4 separate regions of the Homo sapiens genome follow, and all the other regions are linked to region 1. Evidence: fine-mapped expression QTL. A gene starts in region 1. Each other region holds a variant in brackets. All regions are shown on one strand. Distances are from middle to middle.

Region 1 (8,104 bases):
GCATCACCACTGTGGAAAAGCAGTTCCTCAATAAGTAAAACATGGAATTGCCATAGGACCTGCCAATTCCACTACTGGATATAGACCCAAAAGAATGGAAAACAGGTGTTCAAACGAAAACTTGTAGACAATGTTCATAGCAGCACTATTCACAACAGCCAAAAGGTAGAAACAATGCAGATGTCCATCAACTGATGCATGGTTAAACAAAATGTGGTACAGCCAAATGAGAATATTATTCAGCCATAAAAAGGAATAAGTATTGATATATGCTACGGTATGGGTGAACCTTGAAAACATTATGCTAAGTGAAACTAGCCAGACACAAAAGGCCACATATTTTATGATTCCAATGAAATCAGCAAATCCATAATTTCTGCTTGACTAACACAAATTAGTGATTGCCAAGAGCCGAGGGAAGGGGAGAATAGGGAGTGGCTGTGTAATAGGTATAGGATTTTTTGGGGGGGTAATGAAAATGTTCTGGAACTACATAGTGGTGATGGTTACACAACATTGTAAATATTATTAAATGTCTTTAATGGGAAATTTTTTATGTGTATTTTACCACAAATATATACATATATATATATATATACGCATATATATACGCACATATATATACGCAGACATATATGCACATATATATACACACACATATATATATACACACACACATATATATACACACATATATAAATATTTGATGTCTTATATCCTGTATTTAAAGGGTCTGGCACAGTGCCTGGCATATAGGAGGTGATTTAAAAAAGCAAGCAACGCAGGAGCCATTACAAAGCTGGAAGTGCCTCTGGGGTTGTCTTAGCCAATCCCCTCATTCCTGAATGAGGAAACTCAGGCCCGGCGAAGGAAAAGAGAAAATGACCAATGTTACATAATAACAAAACCTTTATTTCTAGTGGGCATCCCAGTTAAGCCTTTTCCACACTTCTATGAAATAGGCAAACCAGGTATTAATATCCCCATTTTACAGGTGAAGAAACTGTGGCTCTGAGAGGTTAAGAACCGACAACCAGGTCTAACTCTGAGCCTTTGCTGACTCCTCTTCCATCTGACTTTGAAAAGCTGGAGGGCTCAGGGCTCGCCTTTCTGTATCCTTCCCATGCCTTTCTTTACATACTGACTATATAAATGGCTTTCTGTATTACATATATTGACTATATAATGGCTTTCTGTATCCTTCCCATGGCTTTCTTTACATACTGACTATATAATGACAACTCTCAAATTCCTGTTTCCAATTCCTACTCTTTTCTGAATTCCAGATTTGTATGGAGTCTACCTGGATGTCTAATGGACATTTCAGCCCAATACGTTCAAAGAACACCACATCCCACCCCTCCCCTAAACCTTCTCGGTTTCGCATCTCACCATCTTAGAAAACAGCTGCACTACTCACCCAGTTGCTCAGGCCCAAAATCTAGTAAGCATCTTTTATTCTACTGTTTCTCTATACCCATAATGAATCTATCACCAGGTCCTATTGTTCTCTCTGCAAAATATACCCAGACTGTGACCTCTTCATCATGTCCTCCACTAGATACCACACTAGCTTGTGTTGCCTTTGTACCTAGATGATGCACTTGCCTCCCAAACTGGTCTCCCTGCTTCCTCCGCCCTTGCCCCTTACAATCCGTTTGCTACATAGCAGTGTGAGTAATCTTTAAAGGTGTAGAGAAGACAGTATCACTTTTTCTGCTCATAGCCTTCCAAGAGCTTCCCATTACACTCCAAAAAAAATCTAAACTCTTTTCTGTAGCCCTCGAGGCTTAAGCCTTTGCCTTCACCTTCTAGCACTCTCCCCTTGGCTCACTCCACTCCAGCCACTTCTCAAATACACCAAGCTCAGTCCCATCCTCTGCCCAATTCCCTCCCTGTCACATAGCTCGCTTCTTCACTTCCTGTCTCTCTGTTCAAATGCCAAACCTTGAACACCTTGCCTCCCACCGTCCTGCAGTCTACCGTGCTTCACTGTTTGTTCTTCATCTGACATAATATTATTCACTTACTCATTCACTGCTTGTCTTCTCTACTAGAATGTGAGCTCCAGGAAGGGGGCATTTTGCTTGCCTTGTTTACTGCTATACTATAGATGTTCAGTGCTATTTGTTGAATGAATAAGTGCTCCCCAAGAGTTCCTAGCCCTACACCAGCAGAGCAGAGATTTGGCGGGGAGGGGAATATACACCCCTTCCCCCAGCAGCCCCTTACCTGTCTTTGTATTTGGACAAATTCTCTTCCTCCCAGGCAGTGTTTCCACCTCCAAAGTTGTCCCGGATGGTTCTCTCCAGGCCCTGGAAACAGAAAATTAGTAATAGCTAAGTACAGTGCCTGGCACATGCTAGCACTTCACTGTTCTACTGACTAGGAAACTGAGGCACAGAAAGGCAACCTGCCTAGGGCCATACAACTAGTAAGAGACCAAGATGAAACTTAAATCCACGCAGATTTGCATCCCAGAGTTCCCCACTCTAAATCGCTGTGTTCCCCTCTAACGAGGCTGCCGGTGCACCCACCTTGTTAAAGCTGTCAACCAGTCCCCGGCAGGTATGACACGGATGGGGCTGAGGCGGGGGAGAAGACTGGGGAGGTGGAGAGGGCTGGAGCCAGATAGGTCCTGGGAGGTTGAGGAAGAGGCTGAGGCCCCAGAGCATAGCTGGGACTAGGCCCTTCGGGGGCCATGGGGCCATCTTTACCCAGGCTGGGGACCTGCAGATAGAGGGCGTGGAGAGGCTTCACTGAAGGAGTCAGGCCCCACGCGAGAAAGAAAAAGGTCTGTTCTAAGGTGCCGTGGCGCTGGGATCTGCGTTATTACAAGCAAAAGAGGCCAAACTGGGTATTGCAGGGGCTGTGGGGATGGGTGGGGAAAGGCGCATAAGATGCAATTCCAGAAGAGAAATAAGTTATCCTCGCTAGCATGGGGTGGAGAGGAAAGTGGCCTCGCTCCTTGACAAGGGGGCAGAAGTCAGCCTCTTGTCTGAGGGTCTGATAAAGAATATTAGGGGCCGGATCCGCAGAATTAGGGAGAAGAGATCAGATTCCAAGTACTGAAGGAGAGGAGGCCAGAGGGGTTGTCTTGGGGGAGGTGTCCGGAACCCCGGGCTTGGAGGGAGGAGCCCGGATCCGGATATGAAGGGAAGGGATCAGATTCAGGGCCTCGCAGAAGGGCAAAGGCACGGCCCACGAGCCGGCAGAGAAGGATCCAGACCCTCGTAGGCCACGGAGAAGGAAGAAGCGACCGCCCCAGCCCGCGGGCGCCGTGGGCCGTCTCCTCACCGCGTCGCTGCCACAGCCTGCGTAAAACGCACAACCCCCACCCGCGCCGCAGTCCAGGGGGCGGAGCTTGCCGCCCAGCCAATGGCGACGGGCCATGTGCCATTACGTCACCCCACGCCAGCCAACCAGAGGCGGCACCGAGCTGCACCTGTCCGGGCTTTAAAGGGCCGCGGGGCTAGGGAATGACGTTTGCCAGCCCCGCCACTGAAACGGAGACGCGTGTGGGCCACATGGGTAGAAAAACAGCGTCTGCCTTTATTTAAGTCCCGTCCCCCGCCCCAGGTCCCGCGCCTGGTCCCACCCCGCGTCCCGGCGCGGGAGTCCCCGGGGGATGGAAGTAGCTATCCAGGGCTGGCTGAAGGGCCCGGGACACTTGCTCCGCTCTCTCTTGGAGCCGCCCGGAACGCGGGGCGCGAGGCTGCTGCAGGGCCCCCAGGAAGTCTGGCAGTTGGGAGGGCAGTGTGAAGACGGGCACGGTGCGGAAAAGGGCGGGTACGGCGTCCGGGTGGAGCAGCCTGTCGAAGCAGGCCCCCACGTAGCTGCCGGGCGCCCGGCCCTGCAAGAAGTCGGGCAGCACGCAGCTGAGCGAGGCGCGGAAGGCGTCGTGCGGGCCGTGCGCCCCGGGCCCGGACACCCCATCCTGTAGCCACTCGCTGCACAGCGCCACCGCACCGGGAGAGAAGAGCAAGACCACCACGCCGCCCTCCTGCAGGGTCTGGCGCCGCTGCGCGTGAAACCAAGCCACGGGCCCCTGCGCGCTCAGTTCACGACGGCTCCACAGGTCTACGGCCACGCGCAGCGGCAGCTGGCACAGGGCCGACGCCAGGGCGCCCACCAGGCGCTCGAAACCCGAGTCATCGGCTGAGTAGAGGAGCAGAGCCGCGCGGCCCCTGGCGGCCGCTGCCGGAGAAAACAGATGGGGAGGGAAGAGGTGAGCTGGCACAGGCCTGGCTCCCCGGGGGCGGCCCTCCGCCCAGCGCTTGCTCCCACTCACCCCCCGAGCGGACGTCCTGTTTCAAGAGCCTCAGCCACCCTGTTAGGGGAGAGGGGCGGAGGCAGCCAGTGAGCTCGGCCGCCGCTTTCCCTCGGAGAACTCCCACAGCCACTCTGGTCCTCCCCCAGGGGAATGGGGAGCCGGGAAGCGCTCACCTTTCGCGTGATCCTTTTTGAGAAGGAGGATGAGGGAAAGCGCAGCGGCAAAGAGTAGGCAGGCCAGCCACACGAGGGCCCAGCGCTTGTGGATGTCTGGGAGACCCAGAGAAGAAGAGTTAGAAACTTACCCTCCACAGAGAAGAAAAACTGAGACTTAACAGAAATGAATTGGGCCGGGTGCGGTGGCTCATGCCTTTATATAATCCCAGCACTTCGGGAGGCCGAGGCGGGCAGATCACGAGGTCAGGACATCAAGACCATCCTGGCTAACACGGTGAAACCCCGTCTCTACTAAAAATACAAAAAATTAGCCGGGCGTGGTGGCACACGCCTGTAATCCCAGCTACTCGGGAGGCTGAGGCAAGAGAATCGCTTGAACTCGGGAGGCAGAGGTTGCAGTGAGCCGAGATCGCGCCATTGCACTCCAGCCTGGGCGACAGGGTGAGACTCCTCTCAAAACAAAACAAAACAAAACAAAAAACGAAGAAATGATTTGCCCAGAGTCCACAGCACAGTGTCAGAGCCAGTGGATGAATATAGCTCCATCTGTTTAGGGGTCTTTGAATAAGTAATGTCACCCTCTGCCTCAGTTTTCTCCTCTGTAAAGTTGTACCTGTGTCATAGGGTTGGTGTGAGGACTAAATATATTAATACATATAAAGCTTAACACAATGTGTTAATACATACTTAACACAATGCCGAGCATCTTAAGTGCTAAAATGTCAGCTGTTTTTCTCCCCTAAGCTAGGGTTGCTGGGCCCTTGATCTTGCTGTCCTGGGTGTCTGCAACTACCTGGTGTCCCTGCCCTGTCTTTTTTTTTTTTTTTTTACCTCCAATTGATTTGCCTTGAATTGATTCATGACAGCCTCAGAGATCTTTTAAAAATATAAATTTGGGCCAGGTGCGGTGACTCACGACTATAATCCCAGCACTTTGGGAGGCCGACGCGGGCGGATCACGAGGTCAGGAGTTCAAGACCAGCCTGGCCAAGATGGTGAAACCCCATCTCTACTAAAAATACAAAAATTAGCAGGGCATGGTGGCAGGCGCCTATTAATCCCAGCTACCCGGGAGGCTGAGGTAGAGAATTGCTTGAACCCGGGAGGCAGAGGTTGCAGTTAGCCGAGATCGCGCCATTGCACTCCAGCCTGGGCAACAGAGTGAGACTCTGCCTCAAAAATAAATAAAAAAATAAGTATATATATATATATATATATATATATATATATGTGTGTGTGTGTGTGTGAAATATATAAAAATTTGATCGTAGCTCCTGCTGCTCTCAACATAAGATCCAAATCCCCTACATGTCTCCTGCATCTTTATCTCATGACAGAAACCTGCCTGTCCAAGACCCTGTATCTCTACCCCCTTCCCCTAGCTCAGTCTTCAGAGTTTTGCTGGAACCTTCCCCCTGAGCCCCTCACCCCTCACCCCACCCAGGTCAGGTCCACATTGTATGCATTTACAGCACTGAACACTTGGTGGTGCTTCAGTAGCTCCCACTTTAAATGTAAGTGACTGGCTCATGTCTTGCTAGTCTTCTAGGGGTGGGGCGGGGGCAAGGATTTATATTTTTGGTGTTCCTGCGATCCCTGCAAGCTCTCATCATTTTTTGAGTGAATGAAGGAATGACCCTCTGTTTATCTGATCTCAGGGAAGGACAAGGCCATTGCATGTGCTGTGCCCAAGAGTGGTCCCTGTCAAGATCCCCACTCCTGGTACAGAAAGGAAAGGCAGTTCTTACAATACTCACATTTGTCCATGGGGCAGGCCCATAGCGCTCCCAAGTCATCGTCCCATAGCTGTAAGATACAAACAGAACCAAATCCAGGGCACCAGCCAGGTGTTCCAATATTCACCAAGCTCTGGTGGCCTGATCTCCAAATTCCCAGCATCAACTATGCATATCTCCCGGCTAAGGTTCCTGCAGCTGCTCTGCCTTTGTGCTGTGCCCACTGACTAGGGTATGACTTCTTCCATACCAAATCTGGCTTATAGGAAGAAATTCTTCCCGGAAGCTCTCCCTGGAACCCAAAACTTAGCACCTGTAGGTGTGGTTATCTGTTTATGGGTGTCTAGCCAACAGTGTGCTCCTTGGGGATAGGAACTGTGCTTCTTCTACTCTTAACTTTCCCAGGGCTGAACATAAAATAAGCCTAAATAGACAGTAGGTGAGTGCTAGTTTTAGGCCTGTTGCCCCTAGGCATTGAGGTGGGGCCCTTCTTCCACCAGCTCACCTGCAGACACTGGCCTGACTGCAGGTCTTGTAGTAAGTACTCTCCAAGGCGAGCTGCCCTCTGCCAAGCCAAAGGATGGGGGCACTGTTACCTGGAGGTAGCACCCTTAGGGCAGCACCTACCAGGCTACAGCTGGGTAGAATGAGGTAGAGGGGACTGGGAGACTTTGGTGATGCCGCTGAATATGGCCCTGGTCTGAGTCACCCCCCATGTTCCCAGAGACCGGCACAGGGTGGATGGAGTGAAAATTTGAGGCCAGATGTGAGATGCATTTGGAGAGATCTGTGGAGGAGGGTCGCCCAGTCCTAACCGTGGAGGCTTTGCTGGGTAGTGAAGTACAGCCACTGGGTTCCAAGGCACAGAGGGATCTGTTGTCCTGGGGGCCTCGTGTCTCCAACAGTAGCACATCGTCTTTGAGAGGCCCCAGGGAGTCTGGAAGGGGTGAGAGGCCACTCTGACCAAGACCCATCCTTGCTGGGATTGGCCACTTGCCTGCCTCCCATGCCCTGACCTTCACCCCTAGGAGGTGGCCCTGCCCCAGCTGCCCCCAGGCCCAACTCACCAGCCCACAAGCACTCCTGCAGCTGCAGCTTCTCCGAGCTGTTCACCTGCTGGGAAGAGACCATGGTTAGGGCCACTAAGAAAAGCAAAAGCCAAAGGCAGAAAGACCAGAATGGGGCAGGCAACAGAAGGCCTGTTGGGTTGGGAATCTGCACTCAATCTGACCTGAGGCAGATGTGGATTCAAGGCTGGGTGATTAGGAATCACTACATCTTTCTCTGCCCCAGCCTTGTGAGATCATCTGTATAAAGCGTCTTCTGACCCTAAAGCTGTTTTTATGTCTTACGGAGCATGGTTCCCCTCTCATCTAACCTTCTCAAAGAGATTCCTTTCTCACATGACCACCCTGCTAAAAATTGCAACCCCAGTCCCACCTTATCCCTTTCCCATGGTATTTGTATGCAATTTTAAGATACTATATGATTTATTTACAATGTCTGTTGCCTGCCTTTCTCCATTACAATATAAGTTCTATGAGGGTAGAGATGTTAGGGTCTATCACAAGTGCCTAAAACAGTGACTTGTGCTGCTCAAAAAATCTTGAATGAGTGAATTTTTTTTTTTTTTGAGACGGAGTTTCACTCTGTCGCCCAGTCTCACTCTGTCACCCAGGCTGGAGTGCAGTGGCGCCCTCTCAGCTCACTGCAAGCTCAGCCTCCCAGGTTCACGCCATTCTCCTGCCCCAGCCTTCCTAGTAGCTGGGACTACAGGTGCCCACCACCACGACCGGCTAATTTTTTGTATTTTTAGTAGAGATGGGGTTTCACCATGTTAGCCAGGATGGTCTTGATGTCCTGACCTCGTGATCTGCCCGCCTCGGCCTCCCAAAGTGCTGGGATTACAGGCGTGAGCC
Region 2 (8,104 bases), 22 kb before region 1:
GTTGCAGTGAGCCAGGATCATGCCATTGCACTCCAGTCTAGGCAACAGGGTGAGACTCCATCTCAAAAAAAAAAGAAAAGAAAACATATGTCCAGATCAGGTGCGTTGGCTCATGCCTGTAATTCCAGCACTTTAGGAGACCAAGGCAGGTGGATCGAGCCTCCTGTAGTCCCAGCTACTCAGGAGGCTGAGGCAGGAGAATTGCTTGAACATGAGAGCCAGAGGTTGCAGTGAGCTGAGATCGCACTACTGCACTCCAGCCTGGGCTACCGACTGGGCCACAAAGCGAGACTCTGTCTCAAAAAAAAAAAAAAAAAAAGAAAGAAGAAAAAGAAAACATGTCTACACAATTATGTATACATGAATATTCATAGTAGCCACAAGGTGGGAAACAACCCAAATGTCTATCAGCTAACAGATGGATAAATGAAATATGGTATAGCCATACAATGGCGTATTATTCAGCAGTAAAAAGAATAAAGTACTGACCAGGTGCAGTGGCTCACGCCCGTAATCCTTGCACTTTAGGAGGCTGAGGTGGGAGGATTGCTTGAGGCCAGGAGTTCAAGACTGGCCCGGCAACATAGCAAGACCCTGTCTCTACAAAAAATAAAGTTATCTGGGCATGGTGGCGTATGCCTGTAGTCCCAGCTACTCAGGAGCCTGAGGCAGGTGGGTGGTTGCTTGAGCCCAGAAGTTGAAGATTACAGTGAGCCATGACTGTGCCACTGCACTCCAGCCTGGGCAACAGATTGAGACCCTGTCTCTAAAACAGTAAAATAGGTTAGGCACAATGTCTCATGCCTGCATTCCAAGTACTTTGGGAGGGTGAGGCGGGAGGATCACTTGAGCCTGGGAGTTGGAGACCAGTTTAGGCAACATAGTGAGGCCTCACAAGAAAATGAAAAAAAAAATCAGCCAGGCATGGTGGCACATGCCTGTAGTCCCAGCTACCGAGGAGGATGAGGTGGAAGGATTGCTTGAGCCCAGGAGGTCAAGGCTGCAGTGAGCCATCATTGCACCACTGCACTCCAGCCTGGAAGACAGAGCGAGACCCTGTCTCAAAACGATAAATAAATAATAATAAAGTAATTATCACTATTTTACCAGAATTTTTTTTTTTTTTTGAGACAGAATCTTGCTCTGTCACCCAGGCTGGCGTGCAGTGGCACGATCTTGGCTCACTGCAACCTCTGCCTCCCGGGTTCAAGCGATTCTCGTGCCTCAGCCTCCCGAGTAGCTGGGATTATAGGCGTGCACCACTGCATCTGGCTAATTTTTGGATTTTTAGTAGAGACGGGGTTTCACCATGTTGGCCAGGCTGGTCTCGAACTCCTGACCTCAGGTGATTCACCTGACTTGGCCTCCCAAAGTGCTGGGACTACAGGCGTGAGCCACTGCCCCTGGCCCAGAATTTTTTAATGTATCTCCCAAAATCACTTTTTTGTGGGAGGGGAGGGAGCAGGGAAGTTGGATATTTTCAAAGTAAATCACAAGTATGTCATTTCACACATAAGTCGTAGGTATCATAACAGATATGGAATTTTTTACACATAACCCACAAGGCCATTATTTCACCCGATGCAAACATGCTTATACCTTAATATGTCCTAAGACTCAATCTGTGTTCATATTTCCCTAATTGTCTTAAAATGTCTTTTCCACAGTGGATTTATTTGACTGAGGCTCCCAACGAGGCCCCCACGTGGCATTTGGTTGCTATATCTCTTAAATCTCTTATGTAACAGTTTTCCCTCCCTCCCTTTTTTTTCAAGACATTCATCTGTCGAAGAAACCATGTTGTTTGTTGTCTCTGTAGAATTCTGTGAATCTCTGAAAATGTTATCTGAATGGGAAATTAAATCTTTCAATTGTTTTTCACTTTAAGGAAAGATTAAGGGGAATGAATTAGTGATAGATGCATGGAAAATTAAGCAAATGAAAAACCAAGCAGTACTTACTGCAGGAGAAACAATGTCTGGAGAGGGAATTATTATCCTCACAGCACACTTCTTGAATCAGCTTGAATACTTGTTTCACAGTTCTAGTATTGTAAATGCAGAATAATGATACCAAAAAACTACAGAAAAATATGGAAAGTAATAGAAGAACTACATTTTCATATTATCTTCATAGTAGTCAATAGATTAACCCCCAAAACTGAAAATAATTAACATTAGCCGCATAAATCTGATGTGAAAATAGGATAAATACCAGAAGAAATAACCAGAAGTACCAGAAAGACTTGACAATAATTACTTCCAGAAAGTGGGAATTGAGAGTGAAAGGGAATGGGGTAAGGATCTGCTGATTTTAAAGTGGCATCAGATTTCACACACAAAAAAAATAAATAACTCTTGGCCAGGTGTGGTGGCTCACGCCTGTAATCCCAGCACTTTGGGAGGCCAAGGCAGGCAGATCACTTGAGGTCAGGAGTTTGAGACCGGCCTGGCCAACATGGTGAAACCCCATCTCTGCCAAAAATACAAAAATCAGCCAGGCCTGGTGGTGCATTCCTGTAGTCCCAGCTACTCGGGTGGCTGAGGCAGGAAAACGGCTTGAACTCAGGAGGCGGAGGTTACAGTGAGCTGAGATTGTGCCACTGCCCTCCAGCCTGGGTGAAAGTGAGAGACTCTGTCTCAAAAAACAAACAAAAAACCTCTTTAAAAAGATCAGGTTTGTTTAGTTGGTGTTGGTGGAAGCTAAAATCTGAGAATGAGTAGGCTAAGACTCCAGGAGCCCTTCAGGCTGAATTTGGCCAGTTTGGTAAAAGAGTATAACTCCCCGTGCCCTCAGAGTTCAGGACAGTGGGCAGAGCACAGAGAAGGTTCACCAGCCTGCACTTTCTCCCACCTGTTCTCCCTTTTGTTTATTTTCTCATGCCTGCCAGAGCAACCAGCCAGAATGAAAATGCCAACCAACTGTCCTGGGCTTTGTCTAAGCAGGAGATTTCATCATTGCCAGCCCCATCTTCTTTGCCTTTTCTTTCTCACTCTTTCCTTGGGGAGTCACAACAACTTTCAGCTCTGTTGGTTTGAAGTCAACAGAGATCCAAACTGGAGGGCCTATTTTCATGGACTCAATTAACTCCTAACACAGTAGGGGCCGCCTGGAAGGCCTGGGGTTTCCCTCTCCCCCACTTTCCTCTCTCAGGTTCTTCCAGAGGGGCAGGAGGGTGTCATTACTATTAAGAGCACTGGTTCTGGCCAGGCGTGGTGACTCATGCCTGTAATCCTAGCACTTTGGGAGGGCGAGGCAGGCTGATCACTTGAGGCCAAGAGTTTGAGACCAGCCTGGCCAACATGGCGAAACCCTGCCTCTACTAAAAATACAAAAGCAAGATTCCATCTCAAAACAAAGAGCACTAGTTCTAAAGTCAGGCCTGTGGCTTGGCCCCTTAGTTGCTGCATGACCTTTAACAAGTTATTGAACTTCTCTGAGCTTCAGCTTGCCAGCTGTATAATGAAAAACATAAAACCTAGGGTTGTCATGAGGACTTAAAAAGAATAATGGTGTGTAGCATAGTTTTTGGCAGACCAAGTGCTTGGT[G/A]AACAGGAGATATTGACCATCCCTTGTATACTTGGAGTCACCTTCCATTTATCCCCGCCGTCCCAGAGTCTGCAGAAGGATGCTGGGAGCTCCATCTGGAGCTGAGATACTCCCCGTCCACACCTGCGCACCTCGTGTTCCCCGCTTACATTCACCTCCACCCCAGCCAGTCTCCTCTTTCCGCAGGATCAGCTTTCACCTTGGCCTCTAGCCAAAGGGATCCTAATCTCTCTTGCATTTGTTTGGAATCTCAGAATGCCTGCCGGTTGGTGGTTTAGAAACGCGATGGGATTGGGGCCCCTGGTTCCAAAGAGGGCAGCCAGCAAGCAGCCAGATGGCCCTGCATGGACTGGGAGGTCAGGCACTCACACACCTGCCCTTCTCAGGAGAAACTGAGGAAGGGAACCGGGCCAGCTCTGAGCCTGTGGAGGGAATCTCAACATCTCCAAAGGAGGCTCCCAGCGAGTTCACAAGGGGAAGTGAGAGGAAGGATCCAGACTCCTCAGCTTCTGTAGGGGGCCCTAGGACTGCATTCTGGCCAAGACTGCCCACATGGGAACAGACACAGGTCCCCCAAAGGAAGTTAGGATGCTGTCAGGAAGGGAAATGGTTATTGCAAAACCCTCCAAAATGTCAATCAGCTATATGTAGAATCAGGATCCAGTTAACTTCCTACAAGATTGTAACAACAGGCTGGATCTAACAAGATAAACAACAAACAAATGTAGAATCCTACATTAAGAGTCAATAAACCAGTGGTACATGAAGAGATGGGAAGACTTTACTACTAGATCAATTGGGTAACAAAGTAATGTGGCTGCTAGAAACATTAATTCAGTGTGAGGCCGTATGAATGGAGTAGAATCCTGGAAAGGAGAGGTGAAGGTTCAGCTTTACTCCCAACAAGGTTCATTTCCAAGAGTCCTACTTTCAGAGGGGCGTTGTTGAGCTGGTAAGAAGCAAACAGAGAAGAGATTCCACATGGTGAGAACCCAGAATCCTGTCCTGCAAGGAACAGCTGAAAAACTCGGAGTGTTTGTCCTGGAGAAAGAAGACTCTAGAGAAATGAGAGATGCCTTTACAATTCTGAAGTGGCTCCAACAAGGAAAACAGAGCTGGTCAGGTCATGTGTGAAACGGGCAAGGCCTGCACCCTCTCCCAGAGTCAAGCAGCTGAATGCAGGCCCCACCATTTACCAGCCATTAGGGATGGAATATTCTTCAAACTGCAACACGTCAGACACAACTGGGGCCTGAGTATTGCTTTTCTGTGAGAGCTAGAGGTAGGAAGCCATTGGGAGGGAGATGTCAGCTCAGCCCTAGGAAGAATTTTTTCTTTTTCTTTTTTAAGTGAAATTTGATTTTTTATTTGATACTGGGTCTCTTTCTGTCACCCAGGCTGGAGTGCGGTGGTGCGACCTTGGCTCACTGCAACCTCTGGCTCCTGGACTGAAGTGATCCTCCCACATAACCCTCCTGAGTATCTGGGACCCAGGTGCGCACCACCACACTTGGCTAATTTTTTTTTTTTTTTTTTGGTAGAGATGGGGTTTTGCCATGTTGCCCAGGCTGGTCTCGAACTCCTGGGTTCAAGCAGTCCTCCAGCCTTGGCCTCCCAAAGTGCTGGGAATATAGGCATGAGCCATTATACAGGCCAAATTTTCTTCTTCTTCTTCTTCTTCTTTTTTTTTTTTTTTTTTTTTTTTGTCAGTCTCGCTCTACTGCCCAGGCTGGAGTGCAGTGGTCATTGCACTCCAGTGACACAGCTTGTGGTCAATGGACAGAGTGGTCAATGCACTCCAGTGACACTCCAGTGGCCATAGCTTACTGCAATCTTGACCTCTTGGGCTCAAATGATTCTCTGGCCTCAGCCTCTGGAGTAGGTAGGACTACAGGCATGTACCACCACGCCCAGCTAGTTTTTTTGTTTTTTTGTTTGTTTTTTAATTTAAAAAAGTCTCACCATCTTGCCCATGCTGGTCTTGAACTCCTGGGCTCAAAATGATCCTCCTCTCTAGGCCTCCCAAAGTGCTGGGATTACAGGTGTGAGCTACTGCACCCAGCCCTATCTCATTTTTGATAACCACATATATTTCCTGTGTGGCTTTCCCTTAAGGAATTGAGCCTAATAATGGATGTTTAGTATATCAAGAGGTGTTCAAAGAAAGACCAAGAACATTTTGACAGTGTCTACCAGCCCCATATGCAGACCCATAGATTTTACTACCATGCCTCGGCTAGGCAATTATCTGGTAGGTGCACTAGTGTACGTGCACAGTGATGTGTTAAGCAAGGAATGGCCCCTGCTCCATTATCCCTGCGAGCAAAAGGCTAGAAACAACCTATGTCCAATTACAGGGGACAGGATAAAGAACAATAACTAGCTGACCATATGCTGGAATTCTCAACAGTGGATACAAGAAATGATATAGATCTATAGATATTTACATGAAAAATGTGCCAGAATATATTGGAAAGTGAAAAAGACAAATTACAGAAATGTGTACAGTGGCTGGGCACGGTGGCTGACGCCTGTAATCCCAACACTTTGGGGGTCCGAGGCGGGCTGATCACCTGAGGTCAGGAGTTCGAGACCACCCTGGCCAACATGGTGAAACCCTGTCTCCACTAAAAATATAAAAATTAGCCAGGCATGGTTACTAGGGAGGCTGAGGCAGGAGAACCACTTGAACCTGGGAGGCGGAGGTTGCAGTGAGCCGAGATCACGCCACTGCACTCCAGCCTGGGCGACAGAGCAAGACTGTCTCAAAAAAAAAAAAAAAAAGTATACAGTATGATGTCATTTCTATTTAAGATGTACATGTAACTGTACATTGAGAAGAATCTGAAGGATACATACCAAGCTGTAGGTAGGATTTACCTAAAAGGATGTAGGGATATAGAAAGGAAGTGAGCTCCCCGTCCCATGAGGTATGCAAGCAGAGGCTAGCTGCCCCGTTTTCAGGGATGCTGCAGAAGACATTTCCACATCCCTCAGAGATGACCTCGGTTCCACTCTGAGCCCTGACAATCCCTGAGCGAGGGGAAGTCAGGGTTGACAGAAGAGTCCACCCCTAAGGGGAAAGAGTTAAGCAGGGCTGCGCTCCTGTGGGCGGGCTCGCGATCGGCAGCGCCGGGCTCTGTTAGCCGAGTCTGAGCATCTCGGAGGATGCGGCGCGGCGATCGGCTGCAGGGACGCGCGCAAGGTGAACACGGGGGCTGCGGCGCGCAGGTGAGGAGCTGGCCCAGGGAGGGGGCGATGGCGGGACCCCGACGGGGAGCGTGGCCTGCTGCCCCCGTCGCGGGCGCAGGCGACCAGGCCTGCACGGCGCCCACCCCCATCCAGGACACTGCGGGAAGGCGCGGAGCCAGGGAGAGAGGAGACGGAGGAGGAGGAGGAGGAGGAGGAGAGGTAACCCGAGATGGACCAGCTCCGAGGCTGCCCCGCAACGGCCTCGCCCTGCCCCCAGGCCGGCCTCTCCCCAGTCCCTGCGGCAGAGAGATCCGCCACCCCCCACAGCCTCTCCAGCAGAGTGGGAGCCCAGGGCTGGGCAAGCCCCCGCCTTGTCCGCAGGTGCCCACATCTCTTGGGTTGGCAGTGGTAGGCAGATGGCATGTTTATCTTTGGAGGCCCCATTCAGCCGTTTTCTCGGCAAAGCTTTTTGGACCTCCTGTGGAAGATGAGCCTCCGAGGGTTTCACAACCCCGATTGTGTCCACTCAGCTGTGTGACCTTGGGGGAGTTGCTCACCCTCTCTGAACCCCCGTTTCTTCCCCCTGTGAAATGGCTGTTCCCACACCTTGTATTGGGAGGGCGGAGTGACGTGTTGCTAAGCTCAGCGCAGGAGCCTCACTGGGAAAGAACTAAACACAGGAGCACTGTTTTTAGCCAGTACCTGTGTTAGGGGCGTCTCAGCGCACCCCTACTCCCAACCCTGGAGCAAAGCCCTGTCTCTGGGCCCCCAGCACCTAGCCTAGACCAGGAGCAGCCCATGGGGCTCCGTGAATGTTTGAGAAATGAACTAACAAGGCTTTAAGACAGAGTCTAAACTCGAGTTTGGAGGATGGGACTCAAAGGTCTTTGAACCCCTTGAAATTGTTCACAACTTTCGGTGAGCCTGGGTCTTTTCCCCGGGAGAGCACCAGGGGTTTTCAGTGGCTTCTTAAGGTGTCTGTGAGCCACCATGGGTTAACAGCCAGGAAGCTTTGGGGACAGCTGCTCCCCAGAGAGGAAAAGAGCAGGGCCTCTGCCGCCAAACACACCCAGGCTTCAGCTCTCGCACCCTCCATGAAACCTCTCCTGGTGGTGGGGCCCCTTCCTGCCTCCCTGGCCCACTGACAGGCTCTCGAGAACAGGAACTTTTAGGGGATATCCACGTGGGGCCAGGTATATACTGGAGGCTGCAGGTTTGAAATAAGAGGCAGGAGATTATTATAGAATCAGACCAGAGTGACAAGTGCCCAGGAAGATGAGGGAAGGAAGGCGGGAAGAGGAATGTGTAACGCTTGTCAAGCATCAGGTATGAACCTCGCCCATACCTGTTTGGTTATTTGTCT
Region 3 (8,104 bases), 200 kb before region 1:
CGTTTCAATAAATAAATAAAGACAACTGGTGACTTGTTCTATCTCCTTTTCTGTCTTTTCCAAATTTTCTCTAAGGGGGATATATTTTGCCTTGTTTGTATGTCGACCAATTAAAATATACAAGTACAATAATAAAGCAAATACTGATAATGTCACATGTAATTAGCATGTTGCCATATTTACTTCGTTTCCAGTTTTTGCAATGAGCTGAGATCGTGCCACTGCACTCCAGCCTGGGCGACAAAGCGAGACTCTGTCTCAAGAAAAAAAAAAAAACCAGAGTATCTTGTCACCCCCAAAACTCCTTCATGGTCAAACCCTGCTTCCACTGTTAATCCCTGGCAAGCACTGGTCTGTCTGTCTTGTGTCCCTATAGTTTTGCCTTTCCAGAATGTCACACAACAAAATCGTATCATATGTAGCCTTATGAGTTTGGCTTTTTTTCACTTAGCATAATGCATTTGAGATTCATCCAAGTTGTAGTATATAATAACTTACTCATTTTTATTGCCAAGGGTATTCCATACTATCTACTTACCAACTGCAAGATATTGGTTTGTTTCCAGTTTTTAGCAATTATAAAGTTGCTATATACATTAGTGTACAGGTTTCTTGCAAACATAAGTTTTGTTTCTCTTGGGTGAGAATCACCTAGGAGATTGCTAGGTCAAACACAAAGTACATGTTTAACTTCATGAGAAATTGCTAACCTGTTTCCCCAGAGCAGTTGTATCATTTTGCATTCTCACCAGCAATGTATGACTGTTCCAGTTGCTCCACATTCTTGTCTACAGTTGGTATTATCAGATTTGAGGTTTTGTTCTTTTTTTTTTTTTTGAGACAGTCTCGCTCTGCCGCCCAGGCTGGAGTACAGTGGCACAATCTCGGCTCACTGCAACCTCCACCTCCGGGGTTCATGTCATTCTCCTGCCTCAGCCTCCCAAGTAGCTGGGGCTACAGGCGCCCGCCACCACGCCCAGCTAACTTTTCGTATCTTTAGTAGAGACGGGGTTTCACCGTGTTAGCCAGGATGGTCTCGATCTCCTGACCTTGTGATCCGCCCACCTCGGCCTCCCAAAGTGCTGGGATTACAAGCGTGAGCCACCGCGCCTGGCCTGGGGTTTTGTTCTTTAAAAATAAAAAAATTTTAGCCATTCTAATTGATGTATAGTGGTATCTTATTGACGTTTAATTTGTACTTCTGAGAGGTGACAATGTGCTGGCAGCCCTCGCGGCCCTCGCTCACTCTCGGCACCTCCTTGGCCTTGGCCACCACTCTGGCCACGCTTGAGGAGCTGTCCAGCATGCGGCTGCACTGTGGGAGCCCCTTTCTGGGCTGGCCAAGGCCAGAGCCGGCTCCCTCAGCTTGCAGGGAGGTGTGGAGGGAGAGGTGCGGGCGGGAACCGGGGCTGCCGTGGCGCTTGTGGGCTAGCACAAGTTCCGGGTGGGCGTGGGCTCAGCCGGCCTGCAAGCCCAGGGCAGTGAGGGGCTTATCACCTGGGCCAGCAGCTGCTGTGCTCAATTTCTCGCAGGGCCTTAGCTGCCTCCCAGCCGGGCAGGGCCCAGGAGCTGCAGCCCGCCATGCCTGAGCCTCCCCCCTCTTCCGTGGGCTCCTGTGCCACCCGAGCCTCCCCGACGAGCGCCACCCCCTGCTCCACTGCGCCCAGTCCCATCAACCACCTGAGGGCTGAGGAGTGCAGGTGCAGGGTGCGGGACTGGCAGGCAGCTCCACCTGCGCCCCGGTGCAGGATCCACTGGGTGAAGCCAGCTGGGCTCCTAAGTCTGGTGGGGACTTGGAGAACCTTTATGTCTAGGTAAGGGATTGTAAATACACCAATTGGCACTCTGTATCTAGCTCAAGGTTTGTAAACACACCAATCAGCACCCTGTGTCTAGCTCAGGGTTTGTGAATGCACCAATCGACACTCTGTATCTAGCTACTCTGGTGGGGACTTGGAGAACCTTTGTGTTTAGCTCAGGGATTGTAAACACACCAATCAGCACCCTGTCAAAACGGACCAATCAGCTCTCTGTAAAATGGACCAATGGGCTCTCTGTAAAATGGACCAATCAGCAGGATGTGGGTGGGGCCAGGTAAGAGAATAAAAGCAGGCTGCCAGAGCTAGCAGTGGCAACCCGGTTGGGTCCATTTGTATGTCGTGAGAGGTTTGTTCTTTTAGTCGTTGCGGTAAATATTGTTATTGCTTACTCTTTGGGTCCGCATTGCCTTTGTGAGCTGTAACGCTCACCGTGAAGGTCTGCTGAAGCCAGCAAGACCACGAACCCACTTGGAGGAACCAAAAACTCTAGATGCAGTGCTTTAAAAGCTGTAATACTCGCGGTGGTCTGCAGCTTCACTCCTGAGCCAGCAAGACCACGCAGCCACCAGAAGGAACAAACTCTGAACACATCCGAACATCAGAAGGAACAAACTCTGGACACGCCACCTTTGAGAACTGTAACACTCACCGCAAGGGTCTGCAGCTTCATTCTTGAAGTCAGTGAGACCAAGAACCCACCAATTCTGGACACACTTCTCTAGTGACTAACAATGTTGAGCATCTTTTCATGAGCTTGTTTGCCATTAAAAAATAATCAAGCTGGCCAAGTGCAGTGGCTCACGTCTGTTAATCCCAGCACTTTGGGAGACCCAGGTGGGAGGATTGCTTGAGCCCAGAGTTCAGGACCAGCCTGGGCAACACAGTGAGACCCTATCTCTATTTTGTAAAATAATTAAAAATTTAAAAAATAAAGCTAATGTATTTATTACTTCAGTTTTTTTGTGGTGAGAACATTTAAGATCTACTCTTTTGGCTGGGCACGGTGGCTCATGCCTGTAAGCCCAGCACTTTGGGAGGCCAAGGTAGGCAGATCATCTGAGGTCTGGAGTTCGAGACCAGCTTGGCCAACATGGTGAAACCCTGTCTCTACTAAAAATACAAAAATTAGCCAGGCATGGTGGTGGGTGCTTGTAGTCCCAGCTACGCGGGGGGCTGAGGCAGGAGAATCGCTTGAACCCAGTGTCAGAATTAAAGGAGAGAAACATGAAGGGTGGGTTGACAGTCAACAGGTTTATTTCAAACCTGGGAGGGATTTCTGACCAAGTTAGGTCAGAAGCTGCACAATCTTACAGAGTTTTTAAGGATTCAGGGTGGGAGAGTTTATCAGAGGCTTCGACTGCTTCTGTGTCTCTTCGTTGTGCTTACCTGGGCGGGAGAGTTGTCTGTTCCCGTACATCTTTCTGCAGCTGCAGGCATGTCCCCTGAGTCTGCTTTTAGCTTCCCTATCTTAGTGCACCTGAGGGAAAGAAATGTGCCTATTAAGGCCCACTGTTTTACTGGGGCACATTGTATGAGGGTGAAGTTTGGCAGTTACCCAGTTACCCAAGTAGGGGGAAAGTAGACTTTCCCCCTACTTCCCTCTGTGCCCAAGCTGTCTTATCTGTGTTTTACTGTCTGCTCTTTCTGGCTGCTTGTGGTTAGAAGAGAAGTGATTTCCTTGAAATGTATGAGGCTAGAAAGGGAGCTGGAACTTAAAGTGGTGGTGTTTGTCCAAGATGACAGTGCTCCTGCTCTGTCACCCAGGAGGCAGAGGTTGCAGTGAGTCGAGATCGCACCACTGCACTCCAGCCTGGGTGACAGAGCAAGACCCCGTCTTAGAAAAAAAAAAAAAACTACACTCTTAACAATTTTCAAATATACATTATTTATTAACTATAGTCATCATGCTGTATAACAGATGTCCAGAATATATTCCTCCCAACCAAAAGGGTGACTCGTACCCTTTGACCAATATCTCCCTGTTTCATCTCAACTCCCCTGGCCCTGGCAACCACCATTGTACTGCCTGCTTTTGTGAGTTCAACGTATTTTATTGATCGATTAATTGATTGAGACGGAGTTTCGCTCTTGTTGCCCAGGCTGGAGTGCAATGGTGCGATCTCGGCTCACCACAACCTCCGCCTCCCGGGTTTAGGCGATTCTCCTGCCTCAGCCTCCAGAGTAACTGGGATTACAGGCGCCCACCACTGCGCCCGGCTAATTTTGTATTTTTAGTAGAGATGGGGTTTTGCCATGTTGGCCAGGCTGGTCTCAAATTCCTGATCTCAAGTGATCTGCCCGTCTTGGCCTCCCAATGTGCTGGGATTACAGGCATGAGCCACCGCACCCAGCGCACATTTTCTTTATCCATTCGTCTGGCAATGGACACTTGATTCCATAGTGTGGCTATTGTGAATAGTGCTGCAATGAACATGGGAGTGCAGATATCTCTTCAAAATACTGATTTTCATTTCCTATGTATATATACCCAGAAGTGAGATTGTTGGATCACATGGTAATTCCATTTTTAGTTTTTCCAGGAACCTCCAAACTGTTTGCCATAATGGCTGTACTAATATACATTCCCACCAAGAACCTGGGAGGGTTCTGTTTTCTCCACGTCCTCACCAACACTTATCTTTTGGCCATTTAATGTCTTCTGTTGAGAAATGTCTACTTAGGTCCTTTGCCCATTTTAAAATCGTTTCCTTGCTATTGAGGTCCTTATATATTTTGAATATTAACTCCTTATTGGATGTATGATTTGCAAATGTTTTCTCCCATTCTGTAAACTGCCTTTTCACTGTTTTTTTACTTCTTCTCACATCAGATGGGCAATGTGTTGACATCATAACAAGGTTTGAGGGAGGCACACCTCACACATGAACATGAAAACCCACTCATCATGCTTATGAACTATGAAAAACTCTGTTGTATTTTGTTTGCCATTCTTGTTTTTTTTTTTTTTTTTTTTTTTTTTTTTGAGACAGACTCTCACTCTGTCGCCCAGGCTGGAGAGTAGTGGCGCAACCTCCGCCTCCCAGGTTCAAGTGATTTTCCTGCCTCAGCCTCCTGAGTAGCTGGGACTATAGATGTGCACCACCACAACTGGCCTAGTTTTATATTTTTAGTAGAGACGGAGTTTAGCCATGTTGGCCAG[G/A]CTGATGTCGAACTTCTGAACTCAGGTGATCCACCCGCCTTGGCTTCCCAAAGTGCTTGGATTACAGGTGTGAGCCACCGGGCTCAGCCTGTTTTTTGTCTTCAAGGTGTCAGTTCAAATATTTCGTCCATTTATTTAGCTGTTTTCTTACTGCTGAGTTTTAATAGTTCTTTATATATTTATTCAGGCCAATTGTTAATGCTTTTCAAATGCATGTGTATGTCCATAATGTATATGTGGTGATATATTACTTTTACAATGGTAAACAAACAAAAATAACAACAGCAACAAAAACCCAAACATCATTTCCATGTACAATACAATTTTGGCCTATGGTATCTTTATCATGCAGTGAAGTTGATACCACATTGCTCCTTTGTGTATGTTGTGTTTTCCTGAGGTTTTTCTGCAAATGTCATTCTAGTGTCTTTTGCTTTGAGAACATACAGTGAATAAATGACTATACTATAAGCTCCTTAAGAGTAGAAACTGTCTGTTTCTCATTTTATCTCCAGTGCCTCACACATAATAGACATACAATGTATTTAATGCTAATAAACAACTTCTTAGGCAAAATGTTTGTGAAAGCCACACTGAAGCATTTATCATTTATTGAATTGAAACATTTCATTTCATTTATTCATTTATTGAGACAGGGTCTTGCTCTGTCACCCAGGCTGAAGTTCAGTGGTGTGATCTTGGCTCACTACAGCCATGACCTCCTGGGCCTAGGTGATCCTCCCACCTCAGCCCCATGAGTAACTGGGACTACAGGCATGCACCACCACACCCGCCTAATTGTGTTTATTTTTTGTGGTGGCGGTCTCTCTGGGTTGCCCAGTTTGTCCTCAAAACTCCTGGGCTCAAGCAATCTTCCCATCTCAGCCTCCCAGAGTAATGGGATTACACGCATAAGCCACCACACCTATCCAATAAAATTATTTTTTTAAAAACTGTTATGGTTGGAAAATGCAGCTGAGGCACAATACAAACTTCACGCTTGATAGTCGTAGCAAGCTCAAAGGAGCCAAAGATAACTTTGTCCTAAATGCAAATGTTGATGCCAATGGATACCACCACTTAGATAAATGTAACGAACAATTGCTTTTTTGCACTCTCAAGGTATCAGTGAGATCCAGGGAGAGGCTAATAGAGGGCCGGTATGGTACAGAAAACACAAAACTTATTTATGAGACTCTGAGTGGCTCTGCACTGACCTGGGAATAAGGTTTTAGTTTTGGCTTTGCCACCAGGATGGACATGTCTGTCACTCAACCTGTCTGGGTTTGCTTCTATATTCCTAGAATGGCAGGGGCAGACTAGATTATCTCTAAGATTCTTTCTCACCCTAATGTTCTGTGAGTTTTAATTCTTGCTAGTCCTAATCTTTTGCCAATTTAGTGCACAGGGTGACTTTACTTTTTTTTTTTTTTTTTTTTTTTTTTTTTTTAGCAGATACGGTGTCTCACTATGGTGCCCAGGCTGGTCTTAAACTCCTGGCCTCCAGTGATCCTCCAGGGTAACTTTTCATTAGAAAATAAACCAGCCGGGCACAGTGGCTCATGCCTGTAAGCCCAACACTTTGGGAGGCCAAGGCGGGAAGATTGCTTGAGCCCAGGAGTTTGAGACCAGCCTAAGCAGCATAGTGAGACCCTGTCTCTAAAAACAAAAAAAACAAATAAATAAAGAAAAATTAAATAAAGAAACCCCAGCCTGGCCAACCTGGTGAAACCCTGTCTCTACTAAAAATACAAAAATTAGCTGGGCCTGGTGGTGCATACCTGTAATCTCAGCTCTTCAGGAGGCTGAGGCATGAGAATCGCTTGAACCTGGGAGACAGAGGTTGCAGTGAACCAAGATTGCGCCACTGCACTCCAGCCTGGGTAACAAAGAAAGACCCTGTCTCAAAAAAAAAAACACAAAAAACAAACAACAACAACAACAAAACCTGAGAACTCTAAATCAGCCTTTCTTATTGTATAATCTAGTTGACAGTCATATGGCCTTTAGATGTTAGTTGTTGTTGTTGCTGTTATTATTGTTTTGAGACAGAATCCAGCTCTCTTGCCCAGGCTGGAGTGCAGTGGCATGACCTCAACTTGCTGCAAATTCCACCTCCAAGGTTCGAGCGATTCTTATGCCTCAGCCTCCCGAGTAGCTGGGATTACAGGCACACATCATCAAGCCTGGCTAATTTTTTTTTTTTTTTCATTTTTAGTAGAGATGGGGTTTCACCATATTGACCAGGCTGGTCTCGAACTCCTGACCTCAAGCGATCTGCCCACCTTGGCCTCCCAAAATGCTGGGATTACAGGTGTGAGCCACTGCACCCAGCCATGAAGTTTTGAACAATTATTTACGGCAGCAATTGTCTGCAAACTGCCAGAGCAAATTTTCTAAATCATATTATCCAGAGGCAACTGGGGGCCAACCTTTTTTGCAGGCAACAGCATGAATCTGAGTATAAATACTGGGAAAGAGCCTAGAGATGAACAACAGGCTTCCTGTCCCCACCACCATGTTTATTTGTTTATTTTTTCTATTTTTCTTTTTATTGTAGAGACAGGGTTTTGCTGTTGGCCAGGCTGGTGTTGAACTTCTGGCCTCAAGTGATCCATCCGCCACGGCCTCCCAAAGTGCTGGGAGGCATAAGCCTCAGCACCCAGCCCCCACACCATGTTTTTGAGATGGTGTCTCACTCTGTCACCAAGGCTGGAATGCAGTGGCATGATCATAGCTCACTGCAGCCTCGACCTTCTGGGCTCAAGCGATCCTCCTACTTCAGCCTTCCCAGTAGCTGGGACTATAGGCTTGTGCCACCACACCCTCCTAATTTAAAAACTGCTTTTATAGAGGGGGGTCGCACTATGTTGCCCAGGCTGGTCTCAAATTCCTGGGCTCAAGCAATTCTCCTGCCTCAGCCTCCCAAAGTGCTAGGACTATAGGTGTGAGTCACCACGCCTGGCCTGTACTCTACTTAGTGTGGCTTATAGTACGGGCTGAGTATTATCTGAAATGCTTGGGACCAGAGGTGTTTTGGATTTGGGATTTTTTCAGCATTTGGAAATCTGAAATACTTTTGGAACAACCTTATATACGTACTCATTGAGCATCCCTAATCCGA
Region 4 (8,104 bases), 92 kb before region 1:
TCCCAAATCTGATATTTCTCCCTTAATTCTGTGCACTCCATTCATTACACTTTGAAGATTCTCAGCACTTGAAAAGCAGGAACTTTATATCTCTCACATGCCTCACACATTGCTACAGGAAATAAAGCAACAAATGACTAGATACTTACTGGAGGCATCTTCTGTCAGGCTCTCTTTATCCTCAGATTTTGACAGTCTTCTTTTGGAAACCATTTTGACCAATGTCTTGTGCACTTAAATTACTTCCTAGAGCAAAATCGGGAAACAGAAGTTACCCTCTAGAAGATAAATTCTGAGAAGTTAAAGCTATTGTTCAAAGAAAACTGCTCTATCCAAAATCAGAGGGGCTCACATCTCCATATTAATGCTACCTAAACCTAGGTGCTAAGCAAATTTCAACTCTTACATCTAGCCAATACTACCTTCCTTTCAAGTCTTAGTTACCTCTTTAGGCAGACTACTTCGCTGTTGCTGAAGGATAAAACCCATCACTCTCCATCTGAGATTCAAGACCCTCCATTATCTATCCCCAACGTACCTGTCCTTTAATTCATGATTTCAATACTATATGTTAGGGACTGTGCTAGGTGCTGGGGTTACAACTGTGAACTAGACAGACATGATCCCTGTCCTCAGGGAATTTACAGTATGGTAACAAATAGCCTTAATGTACTGAACTACAGTTATGTAAGTGCTATAAAAGTACAGGTTCTATGAGGGCTTACTAGGAAATTTAGTCTAGTTGCTAGTAAGGGTGGTAAAGAGAAGCAAGGACCATTTCTTAGGGACAATCTCCTTGAATTTTTTTTTTTTTTTTTTTAGTAGAGACAGGGTTTCACCATGTCGGCTAGGCTGGTCTCAAACTCCTGACCTCAAGTGATCCACCCACCTCGGCCTCCCAAAGTGCTGGGATTACAGGTGTGAGCCGCCCGGCCTAAAGAAGTGATTTTTTTTTTTTTTTTTTTTGAGACGGAGTCTCACTCTGTCACCCAGGCTGGAGTGCAGTGGTGCAGCCTCGGCTCACTGCAAGCTCCACCTCCCGGGTTCACACCATTCTCCTGCCTCAGCTTCCCAAGTAGCTGGGACTACAGGCGCCCGCCACCACGCCCGGCTAATTTTTTGTATTTTTAGTAGAGACGGGGTTTCACCGTGTTACCCAGGATAGTCTTGATCTCATAACCTCATAATCCGCCCGCCTCGGACTCCCAAAGTGCTGGGATTACAGGCGTGAGCCAACCGCGCCCGGCCTGAAGAAGTGATTTTTAGGCAGGGACTTGAGGGCTGAAACAGCAGTTAGCCAGTAGAAGGGGTAGGAGAAGAGGAGTCCAGGCAAATAGATACTCATACTGAAACAAGGAGATGTGGAGTTAGAAATCAGACAGCAGAGGTGGGGGAAGTGCCTGAATCACATGACCTTTTAATCTTGTAAATCAGAACCTTCGTGGTCTCAGTGCCTTTGCACAAAGGTGTTCTTTTCATCTGAAGTGCTCTTATTTGCCTGGAAATTCCTACTCAGATCTAAACATTCAATCGAATGTCATCTTCCTTGAAAAGTGTTCCTCCTATCCCTAAGGGAGTTTGCTACTGCAGCTTCCCTGCTCCACAGGGTATACCTAGGGGCCCTTACCTCACACTAGACTGGGGCTCTTTGAGAGCAGGAACCCAGTCTCACTTACTCAATGTCCCTAATGCCCAGCATAGTTACCGGCATAAGGAAAATTTCTGAGAATATTCAGAGTGAAAAAAGCTCGCAGTGCAGGGGAAATGCTAAAAGCTAACAAGAACTGTTTCAAGTGCTTTATATTTAATAATTCATTTATTTCCCACAAAACTTTTTGAGGTGGGTACCATTATTCTCATCATCACGGGCAGAACTGGGATTCTAACTCGGAGTCTGGCTTCAGCACCTGCGCTCTTCACCACCTATACTTACTCTTGATGATTATAATGACTTCTAATAATGGTTAACATTTACGAGGTACCGGGCCCTGTGCTAAACTTTTTATTTATCGCCGCTTCGGTTAATACGGATAACCATTATCAGCCATCTTGCAGATGGAAAAACTAAGTCTTGTCAGCACGTCCGGCTTCCAGGCACCCGCCTTTAACACGTGCGATACCATCTGGCTTCCAGAAAAGCCCAACAGAAGTGAGATGAGGCCGACTGCCTGGATTAGTTCATCGGGAAGCGGGTGAGGGTAAAAGCCTTTCTCGTTTCCGCATTTTAATGACGCAGAAAGGTACCTGTGGGGATTATCCCATCTCAGGGCAGATGAGGAAGCCAAGGTTCGGGGCGCGGAGCCCCAGAGGAGAACGCCGACCGCGGCCCGGACTTAGAGATTAGGCCGCAGGGGAGCGGGGCCTCGAGAGACTACGACCATTGCTCCACTTACTCACCGAGAAGCCGTCGCCGCCCGTAGTTTTCGACTTTCCCGCCAGGCCCGACGCCGCTCTGACGCCACCGAGGCGCGCCATGACGTGACGCCAACTTCCGCGCCGGAAGTGGAAGGCCGGGCAGCCCAGCTGAAGGCAATAAGCTGGGCTCACCGCTGCAGCAGAGTTCTGTGCTAGCCGGGCATAGGGGCGAGAGAAGGCCCAGAGGCGACGTCAGAGAGAAGCAACTGCGCCCCGGTGAAGAGAAGCTCGCCCATCACCGGCTGGGAGCCAGCTTTCAGTGAAGATGGCAGGGCCAGAACTGTTGCTTGACTCCAACATCTGCCTCTGGGTGGTCCTACCCATCGTTATCACTCTTCGTAGACATGATCCGCCACTACGTGTCCATCCTGCTGGAGAGCGACAAGAAGCTCACCCAGGAACAAGTATCTGACAGGTCAGCGCCCTCCCTTCCCCAGCCTACCTCACACCGCCGTGACCTTGGACAAGAAAGTGCAGGCGTTGTGTCAGTTTGCCTAGGTTCACGTCTCGCCCCCACTGGCAAGGTGACCTTACCCGTTACCTCTGTGTTTCACTTTTGTCCTCTGTGAAATGGGGATAATAACAGTACCTCCCTCATAGACAGGTGGGAATCAAATTAGATGATGTCTGTAAATCCCTTAGCACAGGATCTAGGACGTATTGAGTGTTAAAAACAAAAAACAAAAACGGTGCTGTTAATCCTTTAGGTTAGTCGCCAACCCTCGGTGGGTTTACCTATGAACTATCCCATCCCACCCTTTCGTTGGGAAGAGTGCCTGGTGCTTTATAGCTTTTAGTATTTGTAACATCCAGTCAAGTGAGTGTGATAATCTGCATTCTACCAAATTACTGTTCCAATGGTTAGCTGAGATGCTAAGCACCAAAGCGCTTTGCAATCTGTAACACTGCTGTTAGACATGTAAGGAATTGTAATTATCATTTCCCTTCCTAGGGTGGAGGCAACTTCCTCACATACTTCATTGCAGTATTTATTTATTTATTTAATTTAACTTAATTTAATTTTTGAGACGGAGTTTCGCTCTTGTTGCACTAGATTAAGTATCTATTATTTTTCCGTTTGCATATTTTATCACTTGAACAGAAACTCTGAGCGCAGGGTCATGACCTTGCCTTACTCTATACCCCATAGCATGCAGCAGAGTGCAAGGCACATGGTAGGCCATCAAAAAACTTGTTCACAGCCAGGCGTGGTGGCTCTCACCTGTAATCTCAATACTTTGGGAGGCTGAGGTGGGAGGATCGCTTGAGCCCTGGAGTTCAAGACCAGCCTGGGCAACACAATGAGACCACTGTCTCTACAAAAAAATTTAAAC[A/T]TTAGCCAGGTGCAGTGGTGTGTGCCTGTAGTCCCAGCTACTCGGGAGGCTGAGGTGTGAGGATCACTTGAGCCCGGGAGTTCGAGGCTGAAGTGAGCCATGATCGCACCACTGCGATTGCAGCCTCAATCACTGCAGCCTCGACCTTTTTGGTCCAGCCTGGGTGACAAAGCAAGACCCTGTCTCCAGAAAAACAAACGAAAAAACACTTGTTCAGTCTACGATAATTCAAGACTTTTCCAGGCAGTGTAATCAAAAGAAATTCATCTAGCTCTCCTATATTTACGCTGCTGAATAGTTTTGTAGAAATGGAGTTGAATATCATGACCCTGAGGTATTTTAAGACCCTAAATAAGCAATCTTAAATTATCCTGTATTTTCTAAACACTCAATATCTGTGTTATCTGAAGTTTGCAAATTCCGCAAGAAATTTTTAATTTTGTATTTTTATTTTTGTGAATATCTAAAAATAAGTCCTTGTACTGTTATAAAGATAAAGCTTTGTAATTTGTAACTGAAAGACATCTATTTATTTTTGGCAGAGACAGGGTCTCACTATGTTGCCCAGTTGGTCTCAAATTCCTGGGCTCAAGGGATCCTCCCATCTCAGCCTCCCAAAGTGCTGGGATTATAAGTGTGAGCCACTGTACCAGGCCTAAATGACATTGTCTTAGAATAAAACTTTAAACTCGGTACCTCTCAAACCAGAGTTCCATATTCTTAAGAATCTATGTCTTCTCCTTTCCAAAAAGTCAGTAGTATATTCTTCAAGTTCGAGAACCATTTTTTACACACATTCTATCCCCAAACCTAGTCTAATATATTTTATTCATGTATTTTTCAGCTTTGGTTTAATACCTGTCAGAATTTTTTTTTTTTTTTTTTTGAAACATTGTCTTGCTCTGTTGCCCAGGCTGAAGCTGGGGAATAAGGTCAGTGATGCTTCTGCCATCCCTATGGAGCCACAGAGCCAGTCTGGGAAGCCCCACTTCATAGCTCCTTGGCTGCCAGGGAAAGAACAAGTGGGCTGGACTCTATGAGGTGGAACTGGAGCCCAGGCCCTCTGTTGTGGAATCACTACCCAGAGACTTTATCAGGGTACCTCTTGGCTCCTGGCTTCAGGGTTCATAGTCTAGAAAAATATTGTCCAATAAAATATAATGTAAGTTACATTTACCTTTTAATTGTGGTATGGTTTCCTTCCTCTAAAAGTTTACAATTCAGGGTTTTTTAGTATATTCACAAAGTTGTGCAATCATCGCCACTATCTAACACTGCGGTGACTAATAGGCTGGAATGCAGTAGTCATAAGCCTATCATAAGCGTAAGTAGAGAGTCTTTAGGGGTGCTAACCATCTGGTTGTCTCGATGCAGGGGACGAGGCACCCACAGTCCCTCTCCCATAAGCCTGCCAAGAAGATTGATGTGGCCCGTGTAACCTTTGACCTGTACAAGCTGAACCCACAGGACTTCATTGGCTGCCTGAACATGAAGGCGACTTTTTATGATACGTACTCCCTTTCCTATGATCTGCACTGCTGTGGGGCCAAACGCATCATGAAGTGAGCAAATTGGGGTTTCCTGGGGACAAGGTGGGTACGGGCAATGGGAGAGCCCCTGTCTGTTCACATGGACTCAGCCTTCTCAGCACCTGGGTCTGGCTTTGGTGCTGACAAAGCATAGCCTGTATCAGACAACACGGAGCCTGATGGGCTCTCGAAGTGCTGTGGACAACACTGGCGTGTGCCCAGGGGTGCACATGTTCCTCCTGGTGGAACCTGGATGCATTTTATTTTTATGACTACTTTCCACTCTAGCAACTACATTTTTTCATTGAAATAGGAAGTTTTCCTAAGTAGTCTTCTAGTCAGTTTTTTAAAAATGAACATGTGTTGGCCAGGCATAGTGGCTCACGCCTCTAATCCCAGCACTTTGGGAGGCCAAGGTGGGTGGATCACTTGAGGTCAGGAGTTTGAGACCAGCCTGGCCAACATGGCAAAACCCAATCTCTACAAAAATTAGCTGGACATGGCAGTGCATGCCTGTAATCCCAACTACTCAGGAGCCTGAAGCAGGAGAATCGTTTGAACCCAGGAGGTGGAGGTGACAGTGAGGCGAGATTGTGTCACTGCACTCCAGCCTGGGCAAAACAGCAAGTGTCTTACCAAAAAAAAAAAAAAAAAGTATGTGTCAAAGATTTCATTGAATTCATTAATTAATGAGAGAACTAGCAAGAAGTTACAATCAGTTCAAAGGAGAATTCAAAATCCCACACATATATAGGTCCAGTAAGAATGATGAGATAGGCTGGGTGCAGTAGCTCTCACCTGGAATCCCAGCACTTTGGGAGTTCAAGGCAGGAGGATCTCTTGAGCCCAGGAGCTTGAGACCAGCCTCGGCAATAGTGAGAGAGAGAGAGAGAGACACACACACTTACACACACACACGGCAGGAGGATCTCTTGAGCCCAGGAGTTTGAGACCAGCCTGGGCAACACAGTGAGAGAGAGAGACACATGCGCACACACACACACACACACACCCCTGGGCAACATAGAGAGAGACACACACACACACACATACACACACACACACACACACACACACACACAGTTTGAGACCAGCCTGAGCAACATAGTGAGAGGCATGCACGCTGGGAGCAGTGGTAGTATGTGCCTATAATCCCAGCTAGGTGGGAGGATTGCCTGAGCCCAGGAGTTTGAGGCTGCAGTGAGATATGACCATACCATTGTGTACTCCAGCCTGGGCAACAGCATGAGGCCTTGTCTCTAAAAAGAAGAAAAAAAGAGATAAATGTATACATACAAAATTGGGTTTTTTCTCCCATGGGGATGGGAGGGATGAAATAATCTTCCCTCCATAGGACAGAATTAGTTTGCAAGTCTTATGGACCAGAGTCATTTGTACTATATAATGAACTTTTCTTAAAACTTATTTTGAAAGCCTAACCAAGTGTCTCAGGAAGCATGAGAATATGTGAGGTTAGAAGCTGCATGCCGTTATGGTGATGTTTCCCAAATTCTGCCGCTCCAGTGGCGCCCTGGGGCATCCTTCCCCATTGGGTGGATGTAGCCACTGAGGCTGAAGTGATTGAATCAGTCCAAAGCCGCAAAACTTGCAAGCAGCAGAGCATGGCTGCTAGTCCATCTTTCCGATAGTCTATTCTTCTCCAGTTCCTTCATTCAGTGTTTCCTGAGTGCCCACTGTGTGCCTGGCCCTATGCTGTAACTACAGATTCAGAGATGAACAAAATACCAGATAGAACAAGTTCCCTGAGGGCAGGAATTTTTGTGGCCTTCAGCACCTTGGTGAATGCTGACACATAGTAGTTATTTAAATGATTGTAGAATAAATGAAGACACAGGCGATCTCTATTCACATGGGGCTTCTGAGAAATCCTGCTCAGGATCCCAAGAGTTCTACCAGATCACATGTAGCTAGAACATATCAGACCTTCTTGCTTTCTTAGTTGATCTCCTGCAGACCCAATCTGCAGTTGAGGAAACTGAGGCTGTGTGGGTCTGCTTGCCAGAGACAACAGTGGGTGGCAGGCTTGAGCCTGGTTCTGTGGCTGAGAGTTCCATTTTCCTCCTCGGCTACTTCTTCCAGGATACTACCATCTCATGCCACCTCTTGACCTCAGACTACCTACCACCAGTAGTCTGCATTATTTCAAAATTATGAACAAGAAGTTTCAGACCAGCTGGGGGCAGTGGCTCACACCTGTAATCCTAGCACTTTGGGAGGCCGAGGGAGGTGAATCACCTGAGGTCAGGAGTTCGAGACCAGCCTGGGCAACAAGGTGAAACCCCCGTCTTTACTAAAAATACAAAAATTAGCCGGGCGTGGTGACACACTGCTGTAATCCCAGCTACTCAGGAGGCTGAGGCAGGAGAATCACTGGAAACTGGAATGTGAAGGTTGCAGTGAGCCGAGATCACACCATTGTACTCCAGCCTGGGCGACAGAATAAGACTCTGTCTCAGAAAAAGAAAAGGTCTCAGACCTTAAACTCAGTCCAGTTAGGGGAGGTGGGACACTTCGACCTAAACACAGTCTGGTGACTGGAATCAGTTTAGTGACTTAGTGGTATCACTAGGTTTTTTTTAATTATAGTAAATATGTATAGCATAAAATCTATTGTTTGGACCATTTTAAGTGTACAATTCAGTGCCATTAAGTACGTTCACAATGTTGCCCAGCCATCACCACCATCCATTTCTAGACCTCTTGCATCATCTTAACCAGAAACTCTGTCCCCCTGAAGCACTAAGTCTCCATTCCTCCTCCAGACACTGGTAGCCTCCACTCCACTTTCTATGTTTGCCAATTCTA

Which allele goes with the higher level. Alleles are on the strand shown, and positions count from the first base shown. SD is a standard deviation of normalised expression in the study named. Not every link is listed here.
As copies of T replace A in region 4, the expression in subcutaneous fat of the gene that starts at base 3,316 in region 1 goes down (moderate effect, 0.62 SD a copy in FUSION).

The links. PIP is the estimated chance that this variant, and not a neighbour inherited with it, causes the effect.
Region 2: its variant is fine-mapped to the expression of CRELD1 in whole blood (TOPMed, PIP above 0.99).
Region 3: its variant is fine-mapped to the expression of CRELD1 in whole blood (INTERVAL, PIP 0.98).
Region 4: its variant is fine-mapped to the expression of CRELD1 in subcutaneous fat (FUSION, PIP 0.95).

What each region holds. Positions count from the first base shown.
Region 1 is chr3:9,929,046-9,937,149 of GRCh38, reverse strand. CRELD1 (CRELD disulfide isomerase 1) reads right to left here and starts at 3,316. Exons shown (of 11, transcript NM_001077415.3): 1 at 3,230-3,316; 2 at 2,538-2,730; 3 at 2,233-2,315. The coding sequence starts at 2,711. It overlaps IL17RC (interleukin 17 receptor C), which reads right to left. Exons shown (of 19, transcript NM_153460.4): 13 at 7,253-7,298; 14 at 7,001-7,122; 15 at 6,691-6,750; 16 at 6,207-6,255; 17 at 4,447-4,542; 18 at 4,292-4,330; 19 at 3,529-4,197. The coding sequence ends at 3,557. RefSeq lists an enhancer at 2,905-3,274 and silencers at 3,375-3,704, 4,285-4,344.
Region 2 is chr3:9,950,998-9,959,101 of GRCh38, reverse strand. PRRT3 (proline rich transmembrane protein 3) reads left to right here and starts at 6,694. Exons shown (of 4, transcript NM_207351.5): 1 at 6,694-6,780. It overlaps PRRT3-AS1 (PRRT3 antisense RNA 1), which reads right to left. Exons shown (of 4, transcript NR_046734.1): 4 at 4,315-4,498. RefSeq lists a silencer at 6,656-7,195. The variant G/A (reference allele first, on the strand shown) is at 3,550.
Region 3 is chr3:10,130,029-10,138,132 of GRCh38, reverse strand. LOC124906357 (small nucleolar RNA U13) reads right to left here and starts at 4,748; the gene lies at 4,645-4,748. The variant G/A (reference allele first, on the strand shown) is at 4,981.
Region 4 is chr3:10,020,767-10,028,870 of GRCh38, reverse strand. It overlaps FANCD2 (FA complementation group D2), which reads right to left and starts at 2,434. Exons shown (of 44, transcript NM_001018115.3): 1 at 2,398-2,434; 2 at 150-246. The coding sequence starts at 213. It also overlaps the pseudogene CIDECP1. RefSeq lists enhancers at 1,701-2,335, 2,336-2,971, 3,607-4,243. The variant A/T (reference allele first, on the strand shown) is at 3,750.